Regions from separate parts of the Homo sapiens genome. Here regions 1, 2, 3 and 5 are each reported to be linked to region 4. The links are microRNA targets in miRTarBase. Many come from high-throughput screens and were not tested one by one. Region 4 holds a microRNA gene; each other region holds the end of a gene's coding sequence. Distances are from middle to middle.

Region 1 (4,677 bases), not on the chromosome of region 4:
AAAACAGAGACCTTAAGACTGACAAAAACAGGCTCTTTGTAGCAATAAGATAACATGACAGATAACAGGCCCTGAGAGAAATCTAAGTATTTTATCCTAAAATAAATTTCTCTTAAGTCTGATAAGAAACATTTACAATCTATTCTCTCTGAAGCCTGCTACCTTCTGGCTTCATCTCACAGTAAGAACCTTGGTCTCCACAACACCTTATCTTAACCCAGACATTCCCTTCTATTGATTCCAGGTCTTTGGATAAACCCACTGCCAATCAGAAAATCTTTGAATCCACCTATAACCCAGAAGGCCCTCCCTCTGTCCCTGTCCCTTCCCCACCAGCTTCAAGTTGTCCTGCCTTTCTCCATCGAACCAATGTAAATCTTACATGTATTGATGTCTTACATTCCCCTAAAATGTAAAAATGCATGAAACCAAGCTGTAGCCTGACAGCACAATTGTCTCTTCCTCTCACGTACCTTTGCCATGTTAACCATACTCGTCAGTTTGAACCCAGTGTCCTGCCCTCCAAAAATCCTTTGCACTTCCTACAAGATAAATCCTCACTCCCGTGTTTGGTAATGTCCTCTTTAGGCTGCCCCAACCTGCTGCTGCTCCTGACAAGAGCCACCTTGGGCACATGTTCTCAGGATCTCCTGGGGCTGTGTCAGACTTGTTTCTTATCAGACTTAAATCTATTTTGGCGTAAAACACTTTGATTTCTCTCAGGACTTACTGTCATGTTGTTATTGCTACAAAGAGTCTGTTTTTGTTAGTCTTAAGGTCTCTGTTTTAAGGCAAATGCTGGTCAACTGTGCCTACAGGTCACTCATATTTATCTCAGAATAAATCTCTTAAAATATTTTACCATTTGACTTTTTCCATTGTCATCTGGTTCAGGAAACAAGAAAGTGGTAAAGTGATAAAAAATTATTTAAATAGATCAAGACAGTGATACGATTTACCACAAGTCTAGATATTGTCCATTTTTAAAAACTTACACAAACAAATATGTTTATGATTACAAATGGTAAGATATGACTTCATATCAGTTTTCAAGAGAACACCTCTCCAAGGAAGGGAAATTTACACAGGTTTCTGACTGATTATGTAGGCTTTAGGTAAGTAGAGAAGGTGCCCCCGGCTGATAGAACAGCTAAGGTAAAGGTTTGCAGGCTGAGATGTGGAAAGGCATGTCTGAGGGATGACAAGAGAGCATTTGTGTGCAATGGAGGCTTCTGTCAGGAGCAGCAGGAGGTTGGAGCAGCCTAAAGAGGGCATTATATACCACACACGGGGGGTGAGGATTTATCTTGTAGGCCGTGCAAAGGATTTTTGGAGGGCAGGACACTGGGTTCAAACTGGTAAGTATGGTTAATATGGCAAGGATACATGAGAAGAGGAGACAGATTTTGGACGAAGACCAGTTACAAAATTGTGACAGATGTCTAGGTATAAAGTGATCTGGGTAGGTACAGAAAAGGGCACTGGGAAAAAAGGGAGAGACGGAGCAAGAAAATATTTGCTATTTCTGCTCCTGTAAACCTTGGCTGTCCAGGAATAAATTTCTGTGTGATCTTGACCTCAGCTGTCCAAGTACTTCCAGATCCAGATGCCTCCTGTGCATCCTACCTGCCCTGGCCAACCTTGTGGACTCTTAGACCCAGCCTGTCTGCATGGGCCCACTTTGAGCTGGTTCCCTGAATTCTGGGCTCAACTTCCTCATCTGGACTTTAAATGCTTAAAGTATTTTCCTCAGTATAAGCTAATCCTTATTAGGCAAGTATCCTTTGGTCTACGCCAGCTCCTGGTCTAGGCTTCTCCACCTGAGTTACAGAGCCAACATGGTAGGAACTTTAAAGCAGAGCCTGACAAGGTTCTGAGACCCAGTAAATGTAGGGGTAACTGTTACAGAAAATAAAAAGTGATACCAAAAATGCATAGATGGCTTGAAGTAACAAACAAAACAGGAATACTTGTTTAGCAATGGTTGGTATATGTGTAAATTTGATTTTGAAAAATGATTTTATTGAGGTATATTTACCATAAAATCTGCCCATATAAAGTGAACAATTCAATGATTTTTAGTGAAGTTACCAAATCGTTCAACCATCACCACCATCTAGTTTTAGAACATTTTCGTCACCCTAAAAAGATTCCTTGTAACATTTGCAGTTACTTTGTTTCTGAAGATCTGCCATTTCTGGACATTTCCTAAAATGGTACTAGAAAATACCTGGTCTCTGGCATCTGCCTTCTTTCACTTAGAATCACGTTTTTGAGATCTGGATTGTGCATAATACCCATATTTTAGTTGTTTTTTTTTTTTTTTTCTGAGACGGAGTCTCACTCTGTCTCCCAGGCTGGAGTGCAGTGGCGTGATCTCGGCTGACTGCAAGCTCTGCCTCCCCGATTCACGCCATTCTCCTGTCTCAGCCTTCCAAGTAGCTGGGACTACAGGCGCCCGCCACCATGCCTGGCTAATTTTTTTGTATTTTTAGGAGAGACAGGGTTTCACTGTGTTAGCCAGGATGGTCTCGAACTCCTGACCTCGTGATCTGTCCGCCTCGGCCTCCCAAAGTGCTGAGGTTACAGGCGTGAGCCACCGCGCCCAGCCTATTTTAGTAATTTTAATGTTTAAACAAGGTTTCATTTCATTTCAAAAATTCCAAATCTATTAGCATAAAGATGTAACAAAAATTGCTTTTTGCTCAATCCTAGACCACTCCATTGCCTCACAAAGAAAGGTAACATGTGCTACAGAGAAAGAAGTGCATAGAGGTGTTGTACTGCAAAGATCCAGTCTATTAATCTCCATACTACAGCTGTGAACCACAGGAAAGAGGCCCAGCCCAGTTAGGACTATAGGCCAAGGCATGTCACTTTCTGAACATCAGTTTTATTAGCTCTAAAATACGACTGGGCTAGATCATGGGTAGCTGTCTACCTTTCTCAGCCTCCATCCTCTGCACCCATGCATGACACCCTGCCCCGTCAGTAACAGCATGAGGAGGCAATGCACAAGTGTCGTTATACAAATGGCCCCACCAGGCAGAAAATCACCAGACAAGGTGATTTCTCAGCTTCTTTTCAGCTCTAGTTTTATACATCTCAAGTTGGAAAGGAACTTTCCTCACATTCATCATGTTCCCAAGGTTTCTCTTTGAGATGAATACTGAAGCTTGAACTCTACTAATGGGTTTTCCCAGTTTCACTAAATTTGAAGAGTTGCTCTAGCACAAATTCTCTAATGTACAAATTCTCTAACGTGTTTTGGTGGAACATCCACCAAAGCCCTTCCCACATTCATCACGTCACCAGAGTTTCCAGCTAGTAGGGAGAGTTCTAAGGGGTTTATAAAGCAATGAGGTTTGGCTGAAGGCTCTCCCACATTACCCACATTCACAGGTTTTTCTCAGGTATGAATTTTCTGATGCTTAATAAGGGATGAGCCCTGACTGAAGGCCTTCCTCTATTTCCTGCTTTCATAGGGCCTCTCTCTAGTATGTGTTCTTGATGCTTAGTAAAGGAAGAGATACAACTGAAGATTTTTCCATACTTACCACACTTGTAGGATTTCTCTCCAGTACAAGTTATCTGATTTTCTTAAAGAATCAGTATGTAACTGAAGGCTTGCCACACTCACTGCATTGATAAGGCTCCTCCCCAGTGTCGGCTGTCTGATGCTGAATAATATGCATCCTCTGATCAAAGCGTTCCCACATTCATTACATTCACGTGGTTTCTCACTAGTATGGATTCTCCCATGTTTGGTAAGAGAGGGGAAGCCCACCCCCTCTTGACATTGACAGGGATTCTCTTTAGTAATTATTGCCTGATGTGGAACAAGATGTGGTCTTCCCACATACATTACACCTTTAGGATCTCTCTCTGATATGAATTCTTTAAGTTCCAGTGATGTCTGCACTCCAGCTGAAAGCCCTTCTATATTCACTGAATTTATAGGGTTTTTTTTCCAGCATGACTTCTCTGATGTTTAATAAGGGATGCAGTATGAGCAAAGGCCCTTCCACACTCATTACATTTGTAGGGTTTCTCTCCAGTGTGAAATCTGTAATGTTGAGTGAGAGATGAACTCTGGCTGAAGGCTCTCCCACATTTATTACATTTGTAAGGTTTCTCTCCAGTATGAAATCTGTAATGCACAATGAGTGATGAGCTCTGGCTGAAGGTTCTCCCACATTCCCGGCATTCATAGGGCTTTTCTCCAGTATGAGTCCTCTGATGCTTAATAAGGGATGAAGTGTGACCAAAGGCTCGTCCACATTCATTACATTTGTAGGGTTTCTCTCCAGTGTGAAATCTATAGTGCAGAACAAGAGACGAACTCTGGCTGAAGGCTCTCCCACATTCACTGCATTCATAGGGCTTTTCTCCAGTATGAGTTCTTTGATGTTTAATAAGGGATGAAATATGACCAAAGGCTCTTCCACAGTCACTGCATTCATACGGCTTTTCTCCAGTGTGACATCGCTGATGGCGCCTAAGTTCTGACTGGAAGTGAAAGGACTTCCCACACTCATTACATTTACAAGATTTCTTTTCTGGGTGGGTTCTCTGAGAGTTGTTTCCCCCTAAAGTCTGCCTGAATTCTGTATCACATTTATAAGATCCTTCTCCCATGAGAATGCTGTGTTGGTTAACAAGGACTGATCTTAAACC
Region 2 (4,677 bases), 34 Mb from region 4:
CAGAAACCCTCCAAAGCTCTGGCTTGTGGGGACTCATCATTCCTTCTTCCCAGGCCACAAACATCCCAGGAGCGGCCGCATCCCAGCCTCCAGCCCGGCGGGAAGGGGACTTCCGGTTAGAGGGGGGTGTTCTTCTGGCCCACCCCAATCCTGCCGGGTCGGAGCTGAGCTGGGGCGCAGGGCTCGCAGAAGCCAGGTCCGCGGACCGCGCATCCTCCCTCCAGCCCACCTCCAGTCCTCCCCGCCCCCGCCCGCCCCCACTGTCCCCAAGGCCGCCCTGGCCCCTCTCCGCACGCACTGCGAGAGCGCCGAGACGTGGTTGAGCGCGTAGGACACCGGGAGGGCGCTCAGCGACAGCGCCGCGATCTTGCCGGCCAGCGGCGGGATGTCCATAGCGGCGGCTGCTGGACCCCGGCTCAGCCCCGACGCGTTCTCCAGGGCGCTCGGCTCCTCGTTGGCGGCGAGTCCGGGCCGAGGCTGCCAGGGACCCGCCCCGCACAAAGGTCGACCCCGCTGCGCCCTGGGCAGGCCGCCGTGACCGCCCTGCGTGTTCCCAGGGAGCCTCCAAGGCCCCTCCCCGGCCCTCCCCCTGGCAGCTGCCCCGCCCCTTCGCCCCTCACCATCGACACCCTCGTCTCCAATGGCCGTCCCGCTACTCAGCCTCAGTTTCCCTCACTGTCAAAGGCTGGGACACAACACCTCGGGATGCTTCTGCTCTTAGGCCAAGGGGTGCGCCCTGGAGGTCCTGGCGTGCCCCCTCTTTCCCCTGCCTCCACAACTTCGTTCTAAGGAAATTTTCTCCTGGACTCTGCGCTTCTAAACCTCTGCATTCCCCAGAGTTTCCCATCCCCACCCAAAGATCAAGTCGGCATTCCCTGTGCGCACGGATGGAGCAACCTCCAGCTCTTGGGTGCAAAATGCCTTTCAGTGGGCTTAGATTTGAGTTTTCATAAGGTGGCCACAAATGTAAACGTGTTTCCAGGCAGGTGTGAAGTTTTTTTGTTTGTTTTTTGAGAGGTCTCACTCTGTGGCCCAGACTGGAGTGCAGTGGCCCTCCTCCTTGAACTCCCAGCCTCAAGAGATCCTCCTACCTCAGCCTCCCAAGTAGTTGGGACTACAGGTATGCACCACCACGCGCAGCTAGTTATTTTTTGTAAAGACAGAGGTCTCACTTTTTTGCCCAGACTGGTTTCAAACTCCTGGGCTCAACAGATCCTCCCACATCAGCCTCCCGAGGAGCTGGGATTACAGGCGTGAGCCACTGCGAGGGGTCTTTAAGTGTGAGGCTTTGACTCCGGGGCTGTCCCTTTGCAGGCTAGTCCCGGGTTTAGGGTTCTTCATTTCGGGGAGAGGGTAGAAGGGGTCCTAGCGGGTGGGGGCTGAAGTTAGAATATCGGGATGGAGCCAGTTTGGTGAAGAGTTTGGGAACGGTGTTCCTGGCAGGGAGGAAAGTGGCTCAGGCTTGGAACTGAGCAGTGGAAAGGAGGTCGGTTCTGCTGGGGTGTGATGAGAAGCGAGACAGCTGTGAGAGGCTGTGGGAGGTTTTGAACAGCTGGGAGGGGGCCACAGTATTGGGGGGGAGAATAAGGAGACCATCTGTCTTTGTCACCCCCTCCAACCAGACTCTGGCCCATGTGGAGTACTTGTGGATGCTGCAGACAGCAAGGTGAACCATGCCCACCTGACGCCTGCCCTGCGGGACCCCAGTCTGCAGCTGGCACAAATTCTAACCACTGCCCCTACCTCAGGCCCCATTCTGCACGCAGCCCCTTAGCTTGATGCCAACTGGGTCACAGGTCTTCCTGAACTGGGCCACAAGAGGGTCTTCTGGCCGCAGGTCTGACTCAGCCTCCTTCCCCAGGTGTCCACTGCCCATGGGTGAAGTTCAGGTTCCCCTGGACTTTCCCCAACTCTAGCAGGGTCAACACCCCCCAGGCCTGCTTTCTGTCTGTAAAATGAGCCTTCTTGTAAGCGGGCCCCAGCATCCCCTCCTCCAGGCAGCCCTGCCTGCCACCCCCACCCCACCTTCTCCACACAAGGCCAGGGTGCCTGTGCCCAGCTCAGCCTAGGGGCTTGGCCTTGTCCCGTGTACAGGATGCACCTGCACACGCACACAGCACTTGGAGGCCTCGTCCCCTGGCAAGGGGTAAAGTCCATGCCCTGAGCCTGGTGAGCCTCCAGGTTGCTGAGAACTGAGAAGTGACTTGGATGGCTGAATGCCTGGGACCCAGTGCCAGGATTCCCTGAACCACTGGCTGCAGAGAACTACCCCGCTGTGCTCAGGGTCCTGGCCCACTGCCTTCTGGGCAGCCCTCATTCATGGGCACCCAGGCCAAGCCCACCAATGTTACTCTTTGCTCTGCCTCAGCCACAGCGTCAGGAAAGAACAAAGGGTGGTATATCACCCCAGCCTTGGCTCTGCCACTGCATCTGGCACCTCCCTGGTCTCAGACCCCACTGAGACACTCTGCAGACCGCCCCACCACGGCTCCCTGGTTCCTCTCAGTAGCAGCCTCAGACCTCATCCCCAGCAGCCTGGCTGACTGGAGTAGATCTTGTCCACCTGGTCCCCACACTTGGCACCTAGTGTTTGCTGAATGGCTGTGTGAACACAAGCTGGCCCAGGAGCCCGACTCCATGCCAAGCATGTGAATAGGGAGCCCCTGGTGCCTGCAGGGGCTGGGCAGCACCCACTGGGTGTGTGTGGAGGGGGTGGGGGCAGATGGAAATGCAAATTCCCAGGGCCCTGCCCAACCAGCTGACTCGGCAGCTGCAGCTTAACAAGATCCCCAGGGTGACTTAGGCACAAATGTGGGGCTCTGGCCCTGGGGCAGATGTGGGGGTCTTGGCACACACTGTGGCCTGGGCTACCCTCCTGCCTCAAAACCTCCGGCTCTGAGGCCCTTCCTTCTAGGAGCTGCCTGACATGTTGGCATGGCACATCCATGCATCCATGCGGCTGTCCCCTAACGACACAAGCCCCAGGGACTCGTGTGCCTACCACACTGGTGGGACCTGAAGGGCCACAGCCAACACCTGTGTGCTGGGCCGTGCCAGCACCACCTGCCAGGAGAGCACATGGGTGTGCCCAGAAGCCACCTGCCCCCACAGGTCTGAGGGAAGGTGGGGCCCTGCCTGGAGACCCCTCCCCAACCTCCCTCTGCAGCACAGTGCTAGGCTCGGAGGTTCCTGACATTCCTTTAGCCCAGGTGTGGCCAAGTCTCCAGCTTTATTATTATTATTATTATTTGAGACAGAGTCTTGCTCTCTTGCCCAGGCTGGAGTGCAAAGGCGCAATCTTGGCTCACTGCAACCGCTTCCCAGGTTCAAGCCATTCTCCTGCCTCTGCCTCCCGAGTAGCTGAGACGACAGGTGTGCACCACCATGCCCAGCTAATTTTATATTTTTAGTAGAGACAGGATTTCACCATGTTGGCCAGGCTGGTCTTAAACTCCTGACCTCCAGTGATCCGCCCGCCTTGGCCTCTCAAAGTGCTGGGATGACAGGGGTGAGACACTGCACCTGGCCTTCCAGCTTTACTATGCTGAAAACAACTTTCTTCCTCCCCTCCAGTGCAACCCAGGCTGAGCGGGGATGGAGACTCCACAGGCCAATAAGGAGAGCCCCGAGACAGCATCTTGCATCCCGCTGCTAACAGGAGGGGCTTCCTGCAACAGGACCAGGCATCTGTGGTGGATGAGCACTGGGACTTTATTACACGGCACGGCACTCGTGACAACGGAAGGGGTGGGCAGAAATGCAGGCCGGAACATTCCACAGTCCAGGGACGGTTGGTCATTCAGAAAGTATGTATTTCCAGAACACTCAGTAGTAAGGCCGTCTGGGATTGTTCTGTGGAAGGCAAAACAGATAACAGGAGGAGGGGATTAGCACTAAAGACAGCAGTTCCTCCTGTCTGGAACCTTCCGGAGGCAGCTGAGCCCGCACCCTTGAGGTGGCAGGGCAGGCTTGGGGGACGGGTGGGGGCTTGAATGCAGGTGGGTGGTAGGGGGCTCGCTGGTGAGACCCAGCCTGGCTGGACTGAGGAAGGAAGGGAGCCTTCTGTTCCTACCACCACCCTCTCCTGTCGACTGAGCAAAGGCAGCCCAGGAGGACATGCGTACCAGGGGGTTGGGCCGGAAGCGGTAGGCCAGCATCATCCTCTTGCGGAACGCCTCATACTCGTCGTCCTCCTTGGAGAGCTCCGCCGGCCGGTCAATGCCGAAGCCAGCGCCGTCCACTGTGGTGGTGCCCCTACAGGGAGAAGAGGATGTGAGCAGGGACCTGGGGCCAGAACTCTGGCCGGGGGGCCGGGCACAGCTGGGCTCTCAACAGCACCTCCCGCGGGTGCAGGGCTGGGCTGGGACATATCTGCACAGAGAGAAGCTTGAACCTGAATGGTCAAGGAGGGGAGACCCCCGGGGCGGGCGGGGGGGGGGGGCCTAGGCCCCAGGGTCCCACACAGGAAGGAGGAGCCCACAGTGCAAGTTGTCGCAGCTCTTGGGATGGCAGGATGGTTACTCAAGGACAGCCTTGAAGGGGGCACTCGGGGCCAGGGTCACACCTGGGAGAGCTCCTGCCCATCTCTGGGAGTGGTTTCGCACTCATGGGGAATTCAAATAAGGCCCTTCACAAGGCAGACAAGGCCTGACCCATCTGTACCCTCACCCACCCCAT
Region 3 (4,677 bases), not on the chromosome of region 4:
AATAGTAAGGCTTTATATAGTTACCACTTCCCGAACCCAAAATTAAAGTACATATTCCAGGAGGCAGTAGGGTACTTAGGGTTCAAATAATTATCATTTTATTAAACACCTTTTATGTTTGCTATGTACTTCATCTTACTTAATTCTAACATAGGTGGGCCAAGATAAACAGGACATTCTTCAAACATAATTTCTGGATTTGTTTAACATTTAATGGGGGTGGGACAAAACATTTTTAAATAATTTTTTTTGAGGCAGAGTCTCATTCTGTCACCCAGGCTGGAGTGCAATGGCGCCATTTTGGCTCACTGTAACCTCCACCTCCCAGGTTCAAGCAATTCTCCAGCTTCAGCCTCCCGAGCAGCTGGGATTACTGGCGCGCACCATCATGCCTGGCTAATTTTTATATTTTTAGTAGAGACGGGGTTTTACCATGTTGGCCAGGTTGGTCTCGAACTCCTGACCTCCTGTGATCCACTCGTCTCAGCCTCCCAAAGTGCTGAGATTACAGGCGTAAGCCACCATGCCCAGCCTAAAAAACAATTATTATTTTATTTTTTTAGATAAGTGTTTACTGATATTTTTATTTTGGAGCTCCAAAGGAAAACAAGTCACATCTATTATTTTGCATTTTTCATGTAAGAATAAAACATTTTCCTTTAACAGATACCAACTTATTTTTTCTTTTTACTCTTTTTCTAAATTCATCCAATAAACATTATGCCGTTGTGAAAACAAAAGTTTATTTATATATATATATATATATTTTTATTATACTTTAAGTTCTAGGGTACATGTGCACAACGTGCAGGTTTGTTACATATGTATACATGTGCCATGTTGGTGTGCTGCACCCATTAACTCGTCATTTACATTAGGTATATCTCCTAATGCTATCCCTCCCCCCCACCCCACAACAGGCCCCAGTGTGTGATGTTCCCCTTCCTATGTCCATGTGTTCTCATTGTTCAATTCCCACCTATGAGTGAGAACATGCGGTGTTTGGTTTTTTATCCTTGCGATAGTTTGCTGAGAATGACGGTTTTTAAAAAATTTAGATAGAGACAGGGTCTTGCTATGTTGGCCAGGGTAGTCTCTAACTCCTGGCCTCAAGCAATCATCCCACCTTGGCTGTCCAAAGTGCTGGAAATAAAGGCGTGAGCCACTATGCCCAGCCACAAATTATTTTTTATTAATACAAACTGTATATAGCTGGCCGGGTGGCTCACGCCTGTAATCCCAGCATTTTGGGAGGCTGAGGCGGGTGGATCACGAAGTCCGGAGTTTGAGACCAGCCTGGCCAACAAAGAACAATACATTTGTAGAGAAATGACAGGACAAAGGAAAGTGGTTTTAGGCTTCCAAGGACTGGAACCTTTGGGAAGGCAAACACTGTATGTGGGAGGAAACTAATTGAATAAGGTTTCTTTGCCAATTCCTCTGGTGCTGTCCCTGGTAGATAAGACTCTAGAATTGTCTCCAGCAAAGGAGAAGTTATATCCTGCCTTTGGGCAGAAAGGCAGGGGGATGGCGAGAGCTTTCCTCAGTTTGCTGCTTCTTAACTGCCTTTAGCTCAAAAATATTTTTATGTCAAAGAGGCATTTTAGGATGATATGTTCTGATTTCCTTCATAGCAAAAGATGAGTGGATTTCTATTGGTGGCCGTTGGTGTTTTTTAAAGACGTGCATGCACACATATACATCAGCTGTCAAAACCATCCCCTTTTTCCCATTGTTCTTTCCTCTTAGGTTTTTCCCTAGCAAGTGTCTGAATCTACATCTTGACAGGTATAAATTTAGATAATAAGTCACCTGTTCCCAATAAATACCATTACAGCATGCCTTACCTGTGGCTGAATTTCAAGTGACTATAGCTTCACATGCTAGGTCTGTTAGTAAACAGTGTAACTTTCCACTCAAGGCCATTGTCTTGTGCATTGGGAATATGCTCAGAGAACATTTCCCCGATTATTCAGTAATGTTTCAAGTCCCTGTTAAGGTTAATATCCTGGGTAGCAACTAAATTGGCTTGTTCCTCAATCTACTCTGTTCATTCCAACTCTCCAAATTAATCACTATTAATCCCCACTATACAGTGAGTCATCAATAGCTCAGTTTAACCTGCCAGAGGCCTTTTATTGTGGCAGAGCAGTGATTTCAACAATTTGTGTTTGATTCCCAAACTTTTTTTCTTTCTACTACTGGCAAATACCATAAAAGGATAATAGATAATTCTATGCTTTTGCCTAATTTAAGGGAAAGATGTAATTCAAAGTTTTGAACAACTGTATTTTGAACATTTTACTAGAAGTGACCATTAAATCTAAGTAGTTATTACTAAAACAAGCTCAGTAAAACCATTAACCCATGGATTCAGTTATATAGCACTAATTATAATGGTGTATCTTTCACTGTAACCATTTTAAATTTGTACATTTTGTCAACTACATTGCAACAGGGCTGTTGATTGGGATGGTAATGGAAAGTAAAAACACTAAACCCGATGTGCAAAAGGAACAAGTTTTTTTTCCCCCGGAAATGGGGTCTCGCTTTGTTGAAAAGAATGATGTTGACAGATAATGTACTTGTGATAGTTATATTTATTAAGCAAAAGAAAATTATGTTTTGTTTTTTAAGGACCAATCTGTTTCTGATAATGTTGCATGTTTTAAATAAATGACAATAAGATGTAAAGCATCACATTTTCTATTAAAATTGAACAAGCTATTCAAATTGCTACATTATATCACACCTAATTGTTCCAGTAGTATTTTTTTTTTTTTTGAGACTGAGTCTCATTCTGTTGCCCAGGCTGAAATGCAGTGATGTGATCTCAGCTCACTGCAATCTCCACCTCCTGGGTTCAAGCGATTCTCATGCCTCAGCCTCCCAAGTAGCTGGGACTACAGGTGTGCGTCACCATACCTGGCTAATTTTTCTATTTTTAGTAGAGACCAGGTTTTGCCATGTTGGCCAGGCTGGTCTCAAACTCCAGGCCTCAAGCGACTTGCCTGCCTCAGCCTCCCAAAGTGCCGGGATTACAGGCATGAGCCATCGCACCCGTCCTCCAGTACCATTTTAAACAAATACATATTGTGGACTACGCACCAATAGAAATTAAGGTGGCAAAACCGTATCATTAGTAAAGTAAGTGAAAGCCTTAGTCTTTTTGTTTATTCCTTATTCCCCAAAGGAGTTACTAAGTGAAGGAATTTTCCAGCTGCCTTTATTTTTTTGAGACGGAGTCTTGTTCTGTTGCCCAGGCTGGAGTGCAGTGGCACGATCTTGGCTCACCACAACCTCCTCCTCCTGGGTTCCAGCGATTCTCCTGCCTCAGCCTCCAGAGTAGCTGGGACTACAGGCGCCCACCAACATGCCCGGCTAATTTGTGTATTTACAGTAGAGATGGGGTTTCATTATGTTGGCCAGGATGGTCTTGAACTCCTGACCTCAAGATCAGCCTGCCTCGGCCTCCCACAGTGCTGGGATTACATGCGTGAGCCACTGCGCCCGGCCTTCCAGCTGCATTTCTGAGGTCACAAGTATGGCCTTAAATGATTGCCCTCAAGAACACAGCTTTTGAAGGTAATCATATGCAAGTAAATTACAATCAAATGGAACTGTATGATTATTTTATTATTTTAATGCTAAACTGAACAGTGAACTGAAATCAGAGGAGAAAGAAAATCAAGCTAGTGGCTCACTCTCAATAGTGTCCTCTAATTTTATTGATGCTTCAGTTTTCATAAAGTGCAATAAACAAAATAAATAAATGAAAAAAGCTTTGAAGATTTATATACAGTTTTGAGGTTAAGATAAATTACTGACTATATTCCTTTCAGCCTTTTAACTCTGTGAAAGCTGTAACGTACATTAAAAGCACATTGAACTAGGTTAAATAATGATCTTTCCCCCTTAGATCAATCTAGTATTAAGGAGTATATAATTATGCAAGTTCATTCTATAACACAAGGCTAGACTAAAAGGAAAATTTTTGTGCTACAGACTAAATCCAGATACAGTCAGGTGCTGAGCAGTATTCCTGGCTTCAAAATAGGAGGTATCTGTTTCATCATCTGGCTGGGGGATGAAAGGCATAGTCTGATGCTGCAGATTTTCCCAGTCCACATCACTGAAGAGAGGATGACGTTTTAGCTCTTAGGAAAAATATAAAACAAAACAGTATGATATCATTACCTAAGTAAGTACTGCTTTACAGGAATTATTATAAAAAGAGAATGTCTCACATATAACTTACCTTACTTTATTATGTCAGTTTCACAGACATTTGTTTAATGTCTGTTAGGCCACATACTTCACAAAGGTCTACATGGGCCATTTTGAATATCACTTGGCATATGACAGGTGCCTGGTTTGTATTTGTTTAATGACAGAATGAATGATTTGCCTTAACTTAGAAGCCTATCTTTCTCACAGCTTTTTTTTTGAGACGAGGTCTCGCTCCGTTGCCCAGGCTGAAGTGCAGTGGCGCGATCTCTGCTCACTGCAACCGCCGCCTCCCGGGTTCAAGCGATTCTCCTACCTCAGCCTCCCGAGTAGCTGGGATTACAGGTGTGTGCCACCACACCAGGCTAATTTTGTATTTTTAGTAGAGACGGGGTTTCGCCATGTTGGGCAGGTTGGTCTCGAACTCCTGACCTCAGGTGATCTGCCCAC
Region 4 (4,677 bases):
GAAAATGCCCCTCAGTTTTGAGGACCTCAGTCTGAATGTCATGTCTGACTTCAAACTCTTCCTACGTGGTTAACTCACACTAGGGTTCGCTGTCCTCACACTGCAGATGGAGGACGTTCACACAGCACTCATGCAGAAGCTCCCAGCCAGATCTTGAAAAAAAATAACCTCAAAGAATCCTCAGGCTGCCCAGGGAGTTGCTAGGAAAAGGCAGACACACCAGCATTTACACAAATTCAGTTACATCACTAGTGGTAGGTTTCACATAAAAACCTTTGATTTATGAGAAGGCTATGCACATGTTACACATCCAGTCAGAACCAATCATGCACTCTAATCATACACTTTAATTTCAAATTTTTTTTTTTTTTTGAGACAGAGTTTCACTCTTGTTGCCCAGGCTGGAGTGCAGCGGTGCGATCTCAGCTCACTGCAACCTCTGCACCCCATGTTCAAGCCATTCTCCTCGTCTACTCAGTCTCCTGAGTAGCTGGGACTTCAGGGGCCCGCCACTATGCCAGGCTAATTTTTGTATTTTTAGTGGAGATGGGGTTTCACCATATTGGCCAGGCTGCTCTCGAACTCCTGACCTTGTGATCCGCCCGCCTCAGCCTCCCAAAGTGCTAGAATTACAGGCAGGAGCCACGGCACCCGGCCGTTTTTGGTTTTAAATTTCTCAGCATTACCTGTGAAAGAATCCAAGTGTACATTTCCACAGTCCTGTCTATGAACACAGAAGAAGGAGTGATTGGCAGCAAACTGATGCTTCAATGCCATGATAGGAGCAAGTGGGCTTCAAAACTATCCTAATACCTGTCCTTTTTTTTTTTGAGACAGAGTCTCGCTCTGTCGCCCAGGGTGAAGTGCAGTGGCACGATCTCGGCTCACTACAAGCTCCGCCTCCTGGGTTCATGCCATTCTCCTGCCTCAGCCTCCCCAGCAGCTGGGACTACAGGCGCCTGCCACCACGCCCGGCTAATTTTTTTGTATTTTTTTAGTAGAGACGGGGTTTCACCGTGTTAGCCAGGATGATCCACCCGCCTCAGCCTCCCAAAGTGCTGGGATTACAGGCGTGAGCCACCACGCCCGACCAATATCTGTCTTCTTGATGCAAATCCAAGTTTAGCATCCTCATTTGGGCATTCATTTGTTAATCTATTCTGCAGTCTTCTGATCTACCTCTTATGCTACTCTTCTTTGCAATTTTACTGTAAGGCAAGAAATTCCTAGTCTTCAGTAACCTGGAGTTAAGATACCAGTCCCCATCAGTTACAATCAAGGACTCACCTCAGCACTGAAAATGCCTGGGTCCCACACGTCACAGGCAATGTGCCAGTATGTTCTTATCAGACTCCAGAAAGCACTCCCAGATTGCATGTCACCAAGGAGACAGTGATCACAAGCCCCAGGGAAAACCTGCAAGGTAGCATAGAACCCATGTCCCTCCACAGGCAGTCCTCCTACAGCTCAACAGAAGACAGTGTTGGAATGTGTTGAATTCTGACATTCTGTTCTACCACCTCACGGGGACAGCGCCTGTAAAAGCCTTTGGGAGAGTGTGGCTGGGAAATGGGCACATTACTTCTCAGTGCACATCCAGCAAGTGATCCTCCATGTGTCAAAAAATCTTATGCTTGCTGGGCGCGGTGGCTCACACCTGTAATCCCAGCACTTTGGGAGACTGAGGTGGGAGGATCAACTGAGGTCAGGAGTTTAAGACCAGCCTGGCCAGCATGGTGGCACCCCATCTCCACTAAAAACACAAAACATAAGCCAGGCACGGCTGTAATCTCAGCTACTTGGGCGGCTGATGCAGGAGAATTGCTTGAACCCGGGAGGCAGAGGTTGCAGTGAGCTGAGATCACTGCACTGCACTCCAGGCTGGGCAATAGAGTGGGATCCTGTCTCAAAAAAAAAAAAAGAAAAATAAGGCCGGGCGCGGTGGCTCACGCCTGTAATCCCAGCACTTTGGGAATCCGAGGCGGGCAGATCACAAGGTCGGGAGTTTGAGACCAGCCTGGCCAACATAGTGAAACTCTGTCTCTACTAAAAATGCAGAAAACAGGCTGGGTGCGGTGGCTCACGCCTGTAATCCTAGCACTTTGTGAGGCCGAGACGGGCGGATCACCTGAGGTTGGGAGTTGGAGACCAGTCTGACCAACATGGAGAAACCCCGTCTCTACTAAAAATACAAAATTAGCTGGGCGTGGTGGCGCATGCCAGTAATCCCAGCTACTCCGGAGGCTGAGGCAGGAGAATGGCTTGAACCCGGGAGGCAGAGGTTGCTGTGAGCCGAGATCGTGCCATTGCACTCTAGCCTGGGCAACAAGAGTGAAACTCCATCTCAGAAAATAAAAAGAAAAATAGTGATCTCAGGTGATCCATCCACCTCAGCCTCCCAAAGTGCTGGGATTACAGGCGTGAGCCACCGCGCCCGGCCTCAGCTTGCTTCTTTCATTGTGTTGTGACTTGCCTCGAAATTCTTTCCAGCAAGAGATCCAAGAACCCGCTTTTGGGGTCTGGATTGGTTGCCTCTTCTCTGGCAATGGTGTGACCCAGGCTATCCCTGAATCCAAGCATTATAGCTGCTACGGAACCCAGCCTCACAACCCAGAGACCCTGGTCATTTCCTTAAAGCTGGGCTGAAGTCCAGTTTATGGCGCAGAACAAGCACCACGGTTTAGCTTTTACCTGCAGTGGCTCCTGGAGCCCCCCGCCCCCCCTCCCCCCCATGGTGTTTTTTCGGTGCTCGCCTCAGTCATTGGACCTCAGCTATGACAGCACTTTCATTCTGGCACCAGAAAGTGCCCTCAAGGCTGAGTGCCACAGACTGAGAAGTACCCTCCCTGTATTGTCCAGTACCTGGAAACTGCAGGCACATCCTCTATGCAGAAGATAAGAGATTTAAAACTGACTTCTGAATGTTGCTCAATAGTGAAAGGTAGATTGAGCATTCTCTCCAGTTCTCAGGAACAATGCAGAGCCTTGTAATGCAAATCCTAGGCCTGCCCTGGGGCTCATGCCTGTAATCCCAGCACTTTGGGGATCCCCAGCCTGAATAACACCTTTTAAATTACTTTGTTTTCTTTTTCTTTTTCTCTTTTTTTTTTCTTAGTCTTGCTCTGTTGCCCAGGCTGGAGTGCCATGGCGCGATCATCAGCTCACTGCAGCCTCCGCCTCCTGGGTTCAAGCAATTCTCCTGCCTCAGCCTCCTGAGAAACTGGGATTACAGGCGCCTGCCACCACACCTGGCTAATTTTTGTATTTTTAGTAGAGACAGGGTTTCACCATATTGGCCAGGCTGGTCTCGAACTCCCGACCTCATGATCCGCCCACCTCAGCCTCCCAAAGTGCTGGGATTACAGACGTGAGCCACCGCACACGTCCAGCACCTTTTAAATTACGTGGACAGGCCCGGTGTGGTGGCTCACCTGTAATCCTAGCAGTTTGGGAAGCCAAGGCAGAAGGATTGCTTGAGCACAGGACTTCGAAACCAGCCTGGGAAACATACTTAGCCCCCTTATCTACAAAAAATGCAAAAATTAACTGGGTATGGTGGTACGTACTTATAGTCCCAGCTACTCAGGAGGCGGAGGTGGCTCACTTGAATCTGGAAGGCAGAGGTTGCAGAGAGCCAAGATCTGGCCACTGCCCTCTGGGCACCGGTGTAGTCTCAGCTACTCGGGAGACTGATGCAGAAGAACTGCCTAAACCCAGGAGGTGGAGGTTGCTGTGAGTTCCCACAACTGCACTCCAGGCTGGGCAATAGAGTGAGATCCTGTCTCAAAAAATGAAAAACATTTTTGCTCTACAAGATTACATTTAATTGGCAACTACCTAGCTTTGAACCAGCAAGGGGAAAAGTAACAGAACGGCATGTCTGTCTCACTAACTTCTTGTTTTTTTGAGACAGGTTCTTGCTCTGTCCCCCAGACTGCAGAGCGGCAACACAGCCGTCGGCTCACTGCAGCCTCAACGTCCCTGGCCATACACAACTGCAGCATTTTGGCTAAACCAGCATGGCTTACAGAGAACAAGTAGTTCTTTCTCTCTCTTTTTTAAGACAAGCGTCTTGCTCTGTTGCCCAGACTGGAGTTCGGTGGCGCGATCTCGGCTCACTGCAACCTCCGTCTGCCGGGTTCAAGCAGTTCTCCTGCCTCAGCCTACCGAGTAGCTGGGACTGCAAGCCTGTGCCATCATGCCCAGCTAATTTTTTTGTATTTTTAGTAGAGATGGGGTTTCACCATGCTGGCCAGGCTGGTCTCGAACTCCTGGCCTTGTGATCCGCCCTCCTCGGCCTCCCAAAGTGCTAGGATAATAGGCGTGCGCCACTGCGTCCTGCCACAATAGTTCTTTCAATGGTAAGACTAGTTGAAAACCTGAGTTAGATGTGTATCTCTAATCTTAGTGATATTTAAATGTAAATAAAAATGTTATGTCTGGAACACACTTGGGCTGCTTGGGATATATTCAGATAAATACTATTATACATAATTTATAAATAAATACTATTTATTTACTAATAGGGTATCAGAAAGGTACAATCCCTATGTCTCCAGGTTGACATAGAAATTTTCTACTGGTCCGAAAGTTGCATCTGTACGACTGGCCAGTTGCTTCTGGTTCAACAAGGACCTAACCTGCCAATCACACAGGACAGCTGGGGGCTGACATTCC
Region 5 (4,677 bases), not on the chromosome of region 4:
CCCGGGTTCATGCCATTCTCCTGCCTCAGCCTCCCCAGCAGCTGGGGCTACAGGCACACACCGCCACGCCCGGCTAATTTTTGTATTTTTAGTAGAGACAGGGTTTCACTGTGTTAGCCAGGATGGTCTCGATCTCCTGACCTTGTGACCCGCCCACCTCGGCCTCCCAAAGTGCTGGGATTAAAGGCGTGAGCCACTGCGCCTGGCCGTAAATATTTTTTAAATATAGGCAAGAGATCTTTAATGAATCTCAAGCAGCATTTATAAAAAATGCAATAGGACAGAGAATATCAGTGTGCATTGTGTGACGTATGGGTAAGCACTGTTTCAAGACTCTCCTGTTCCAGAACGGAGAGGCACGGTGTGCGTGCATGGGTTACACAGTACATCACAGCCGTATCGTGGGTTCTGGTCAAAAGGGCTGGCCAGCGTGGCCACAGGGCAACCTCCAGCCCAGCCGGCACCAGCAGGCCTACTGCTCTCTCCCCAGGTGTGCCGAGTGCAAGACCGTCTTCCACCAGAGCTGCCAGGCTGTGGTGAAGAAGGGCTGCCCCCGCTGTGCCCGCCGGCGCAAGTACCAGGAACAGAACATTTTCGCCTGATGCCCATCTGCTGACCCCGCTCTGAAAGCCGGGGGTGAGTGTGGCTCAGCCATCCCGGCTGGGTTTGCCATCAGCCCAGGATACTCACCGTGTCACAGCTGTGTCCCCTTGTCAGGAAGACCCTCAGATGTGGCCAGAGCACCGGCCTCCCAGAGAAAGCCCAGGAAGTCCCCGTGGTGTCCCCTGGCCCTCCCCCCACCCCTCTGCTGCAGGAGGCGTGGCCACCACCAGATGCTCCCTGTCTGGGGCAGGCAGGGCCGTTTACTCACCAGGCCCTGGCTCACCAGCGTCCCGGCGCCTCCGTTAGGGCTGCCCAAACACTGTGGAAAGGGGACTTGGGGAGCATTTTCAATTCCACATTCCTGATTAAAAGGTCTAGTTTTTTAAGGTGGGTTTTTCCCATTCATATTTCAACAGAAAGTATTTTTTTATTCTTGACCCTACGTGAGTCACCCATGAAATCCAGACATTCTCACCCCCAGCGGATGCACAGGAGCCACTCAGGCCTGGCTTAGAGGTAGCGGGTGGCTGGTGGGCAGGCCACTGCTGGGACAGGGTCTATGGGCCCACCCAGTGCCTTTCCTTGGCCCTCACTGCCAGTGCCAAACCGCCCCTCAGCAGGGCAGGGCCAGTCCTGGCGACCCCGGTTCCTCTGTGTCCTCTTTACTCCCCACCCCAGTGCGTCTCGCCTGCTGAGCCCACCGCTTTCTCAGCGTCAGAGCCCCTAGCTCTTCTCTAGCCTGGGGCCTTGGCCCCATTAGGAGAAGGAGAAATGACTGGAAACCAGCACTGTCAGCACTTTGAGCCCTCCTCGGTTTATGGAGGGTCGCCGTCTTGCCCACCCCCGATCCCCGTGCGCTCCTCACCCCTCTACAGACAGGGGCGCTGCTGCAGATGCTCCAGGCCCACCTTGGTGGGTGCCCGGGGTCACACTCTCTGCCTGACTGACCCCTGCCAGGGCACAGATAGGCAGGACCCCAGAGAGGGCAGGCAGCCACGCCCTGCACTGTGGAGAAGTGACCTGGTCCTAAGCTGTGCAGGGCGTGCGGGGGAACTGCCCTGTGGATGCAGCCACCACCTCACAAAGCCATGAATTCCCAAAGCATCACTGAACTTGCCCAGCCGGGACACTGGAGACTGAAGAAGTTCCCCGGAGCAGGACTGCCTTTGAAGGGGCCTTGGGGCTGGGGTGGGAGTCTGGAATTGTTTTCAAAGTGATGGTCAGACCCTCCAGGCTTCGGGGAAATGTGGGTTTGCTGGTCTCTCTGTCGCCTTCCCCCACCTCTCCTGGACCTAGCAGGCCCTCAGTCCTAGCTGTCTTACCTGCGCTCAGCTTGGAGTCAGGCCTCAGGTGGAGAGCCGCATGTCACTGTCAGAGATGAGCCCACCCCCACCCTTCCCTGGGGGCGATTAGCTGCTGAGTCACCCACCCAGCCTTGGAGCTGGATGCCTGTGCAGCAGAACAGAGGCAACGGTGGCAGGCAGGTGGAGGCTGCGCACAGCTTCTCCCGGTCATGGCACACACCTGTGCCCAGACGCCAATGCCTCCTAAGCCAGGAGCTGGGTTATGCACCGCCATGGCCCACATTAACGCTCCACCACAAGCCCAGCCTAGTCAGAGCCCTCATTGCCCCATCCCTGAGTGGGCAGGAGCCTGGCCTGGGGAGGGCTTGGGCCTGTGAGGATTCTCCCCGAAGGTGCCCTCGGAGGCAGCAGGTTTGAGGCCCTGGGGGGCCCGTTCCCCAGAAGCTGCCAGTGCTTTCAGATGCATTGACTCTTCCCGCCTCCCCTCCCTCAGAAAGGTAGTGCCCACACTATTTTTAAAATGTTATTTTATGCAATACACTGTTCCTAGTGAGCAGGGCTCTGGCCCTGAGGAGTCTTTGCAATGTATTGAAGGAATTGCTGCCGTGTGAGTTTTGAATGATTTTGCAGTAAAGACCTGATCTTTCTCATCACTGGTCTGGCTTCTGAATTCTAACACTGCCACGGCCAGGGGGGAGACCACCAGCCATCTGTTACCATCTGTCAGGGTCCCCTACCCTCATGTTAGTCCCTGGCACGGGGGAAGGCTTGGGAGGTCCGTGGCAAACACTTGTAGGCAGAGGGCTTGCATGCCAGGAGTGGGCAGGGAGAAGAGAGTAAGAAAACCACCTTGCCAAGCCCAGCAGTCAGGCTCTTCCTGGGGTAGGATCTCAGGGTCTCTGGGGAGGTGTACCCACACTTGTATAACAACTCAAGCTGATCCCACGCCGGTGGCTTCTTTTCCTGTGACTTAAATGTCAAAACACAGACCCTTGACACTGGATCATGTGAAACCTCAGGATACAGGGGACATTTCTCAGAGGAGAAATAAAGGAGAGATGGGGCTCAGGAAAGAAGGGTTATTTAAGTGGATCCCCCGATTCAGGGCTCATGGTTTTAGGGCTCAAAATGACTTTTACTTGGCTGCTGACCTTCCTCAGAAGTTCCAGGAGAAGCCCAGGGGACCCCTCCAAGGGGAGGCCCACACCACTGTCCATTTTAAGAACAGGAGCAGGAAACAGACTTAATTCTCAGGGAAATCAGGTTGCAGTAAAATGGGATGGAAACAGACAACATTCAGGTCTGAGATTTCCTGTCCTTAAAGGCCCCTTTCAGATTACAAGGTGGCACCCTCTGCCAATCTAGGTGCCCCAGCTTCCCCCAAGGGCTTCACCTCCCTCCAGGACAGTAGATGGTAGGCCCGGAGAAGAGAAGAGAAACTGGGAGAGGGAGGCCCAGAGGAGGGCCACAGCACGTGACCTGGTGCTGCCCTGCCGGTGGGTTCAGGCCCTCTCCAGCCTCAGCAAAGCGCCCCTGAGGCCACTTGTTTCCCCTTCTCCCCTCCCTTTTTTTTTTTTTTTTTTTTGGATACAGTCTCACTCCAATGCCCAGGCTGGAGTGCAGTGGCGTGATCTTGGCTCACTGCAACCTCCACTTCCCGGGTTCAAGCAATTCTCCTGCCTCAGCCTCCTGAGTAGCTGAGACTTCCCCTTTTCCTCTTCTCTCTGAAGGAGGACAGGTGGTTTGGAGATTCCAATCCAACCCCCAAGAGCTTATCATATAATGTAAGTAGTCATAATAGCTGATGTACCCCGGCATGGTGGCTCACACCTGTAATCCCAGCATTTTGGGAGGCCGAGGAGGTTGGATCATCTGAGGTCAGAAGTTCAAGACCAGCCTGGCCAACATGGTGAAACCCCGTCTCTACAAAAATACAAAAATTAACTGGGCATGATGGCGGGTGCCTGTAATCCCAGCTACTCAGGAAGCTGAGGCAGGAGAACCACTTGAACCCGGAGGCGGAGGTTGCAGTGAGCCAAGATCGTGCCGCTGCACTTCGGCCTGGGAGACAGAGTGAGACTCTGTCTTAAAAAAAATAGCTGATATATTGTGTGCGCTGGGCATGTGGTAAGCACTGCTTAGTGGACCTCATTTAATCTTCCCAATAATCCAGTGAAGTGGGTGTTACTATCCCATTGACAGGAAAGAAATCTGAGCTGCAGAGATAAGGCAGAACTCCCAAGGCCTACCAGCCGCCAAGCAGCAGAGTGGGGCATCATACCTGCCTGACCCCACGCAAAGACCATCACCACTGCCAGCCACTGCCTGGCTGTGCTGCAGGTGGAGAGGGACCTAAAAGGTAGGGAGGGAGAGAAGATTCCTCCAGCCACGATTTTCTTTTTTTCTTTTTTGGTTGTTGTTTTTTGAGACGGAGTCTTGCTCTGTCGCCCAGGCTGAAGTGCAGTGGCACGATCATGGCTCACGGCAGTCTCCGCCTCCCAGGTTCACACCATTCTCCTGCCTCAGCCTCCGGAGTAGCTGGGACTACAGGCTCCCGCCACCACGCCCGGCTAATGTTTTATATTTTTAGTAGAGACGGGGTTTCACCGTGTTAGCCGGGGTTTCACCGTGTTAGCCAGGGTTTCTCAATCTCCTGACCTCATGATCCGCCCGCCTCGGCCTCCCAAAGTGCTGGGATTATAGGCGTGAGCCACCGTGCCCGGCACCAGCCACTATTTTCTAAGCATGTCGGGCACCAAAGACCAGTGCT

Evidence for each region. Region 4 holds the annotated microRNA hsa-miR-512-3p (AAGUGCUGUCAUAGCUGAGGUC, at 2,765-2,786, opposite strand). A microRNA usually pairs through its seed, bases 2 to 8, with sites in the 3' UTR of a target mRNA and lowers its output. Matches are read on the target gene's strand: a 7mer-m8 pairs with bases 2 to 8, a 7mer-A1 pairs with bases 2 to 7 and ends in A, and an 8mer does both.
Region 1: the mRNA of ZNF514 is a reported target of hsa-miR-512-3p. Seed matches in the 3' UTR shown: 7mer-m8 at 2,574-2,580.
Region 2: miRTarBase lists SUGP1 as a target of hsa-miR-512-3p. Seed matches in the 3' UTR shown: 7mer-m8 at 3,491-3,497.
Region 3: miRTarBase lists MASTL as a target of hsa-miR-512-3p. Seed matches in the 3' UTR shown: 7mer-m8 at 3,479-3,485.
Region 5: miRTarBase lists PLEKHM1 as a target of hsa-miR-512-3p. Seed matches in the 3' UTR shown: 7mer-m8 at 1,387-1,393 and 7mer-m8 at 1,396-1,402.

The regions. Positions count from the first base shown.
Region 1 is chr2:95,145,328-95,150,004 of GRCh38, forward strand. ZNF514 (zinc finger protein 514) reads right to left here. Exons shown (of 5, transcript NM_032788.3): 5 at 1-4,677. The coding sequence ends at 3,955. Among named protein-coding and RNA genes, the nearest start is that of ZNF514, 12 kb to the right of the region's middle.
Region 2 is chr19:19,272,823-19,277,499 of GRCh38, forward strand. It overlaps SUGP1 (SURP and G-patch domain containing 1), which reads right to left. Exons shown (of 14, transcript NM_172231.4): 13 at 4,125-4,254; 14 at 3,211-3,852. The coding sequence ends at 3,826. TM6SF2 (transmembrane 6 superfamily member 2) reads right to left here and starts at 479. Exons shown (of 10, transcript NM_001001524.3): 1 at 299-479. The coding sequence starts at 393.
Region 3 is chr10:27,185,859-27,190,535 of GRCh38, reverse strand. It overlaps MASTL (microtubule associated serine/threonine kinase like), which reads right to left. Exons shown (of 12, transcript NM_001172303.3): 12 at 2,583-4,157. The coding sequence ends at 4,000. It also overlaps a transcript of ACBD5 not described here. Among named protein-coding and RNA genes, the nearest start is that of MASTL, 33 kb to the right of the region's middle.
Region 4 is chr19:53,667,322-53,671,998 of GRCh38, reverse strand. MIR512-2 (microRNA 512-2) reads right to left here and starts at 2,842; the gene lies at 2,745-2,842. The region is part of intron 2 of LOC107985342 (a long non-coding RNA gene); the gene reads right to left. MIR1323 (microRNA 1323) reads right to left here and starts at 31; the gene lies at 1-31. RefSeq lists enhancers at 1,955-2,842, 2,843-3,731, 4,620-4,677.
Region 5 is chr17:45,433,783-45,438,459 of GRCh38, reverse strand. It overlaps PLEKHM1 (pleckstrin homology and RUN domain containing M1), which reads left to right. Exons shown (of 12, transcript NM_014798.3): 12 at 491-2,560. The coding sequence ends at 602. Among named protein-coding and RNA genes, the nearest start is that of ARHGAP27, 3.3 kb to the right of the region's middle. RefSeq lists an enhancer at 1,968-2,621.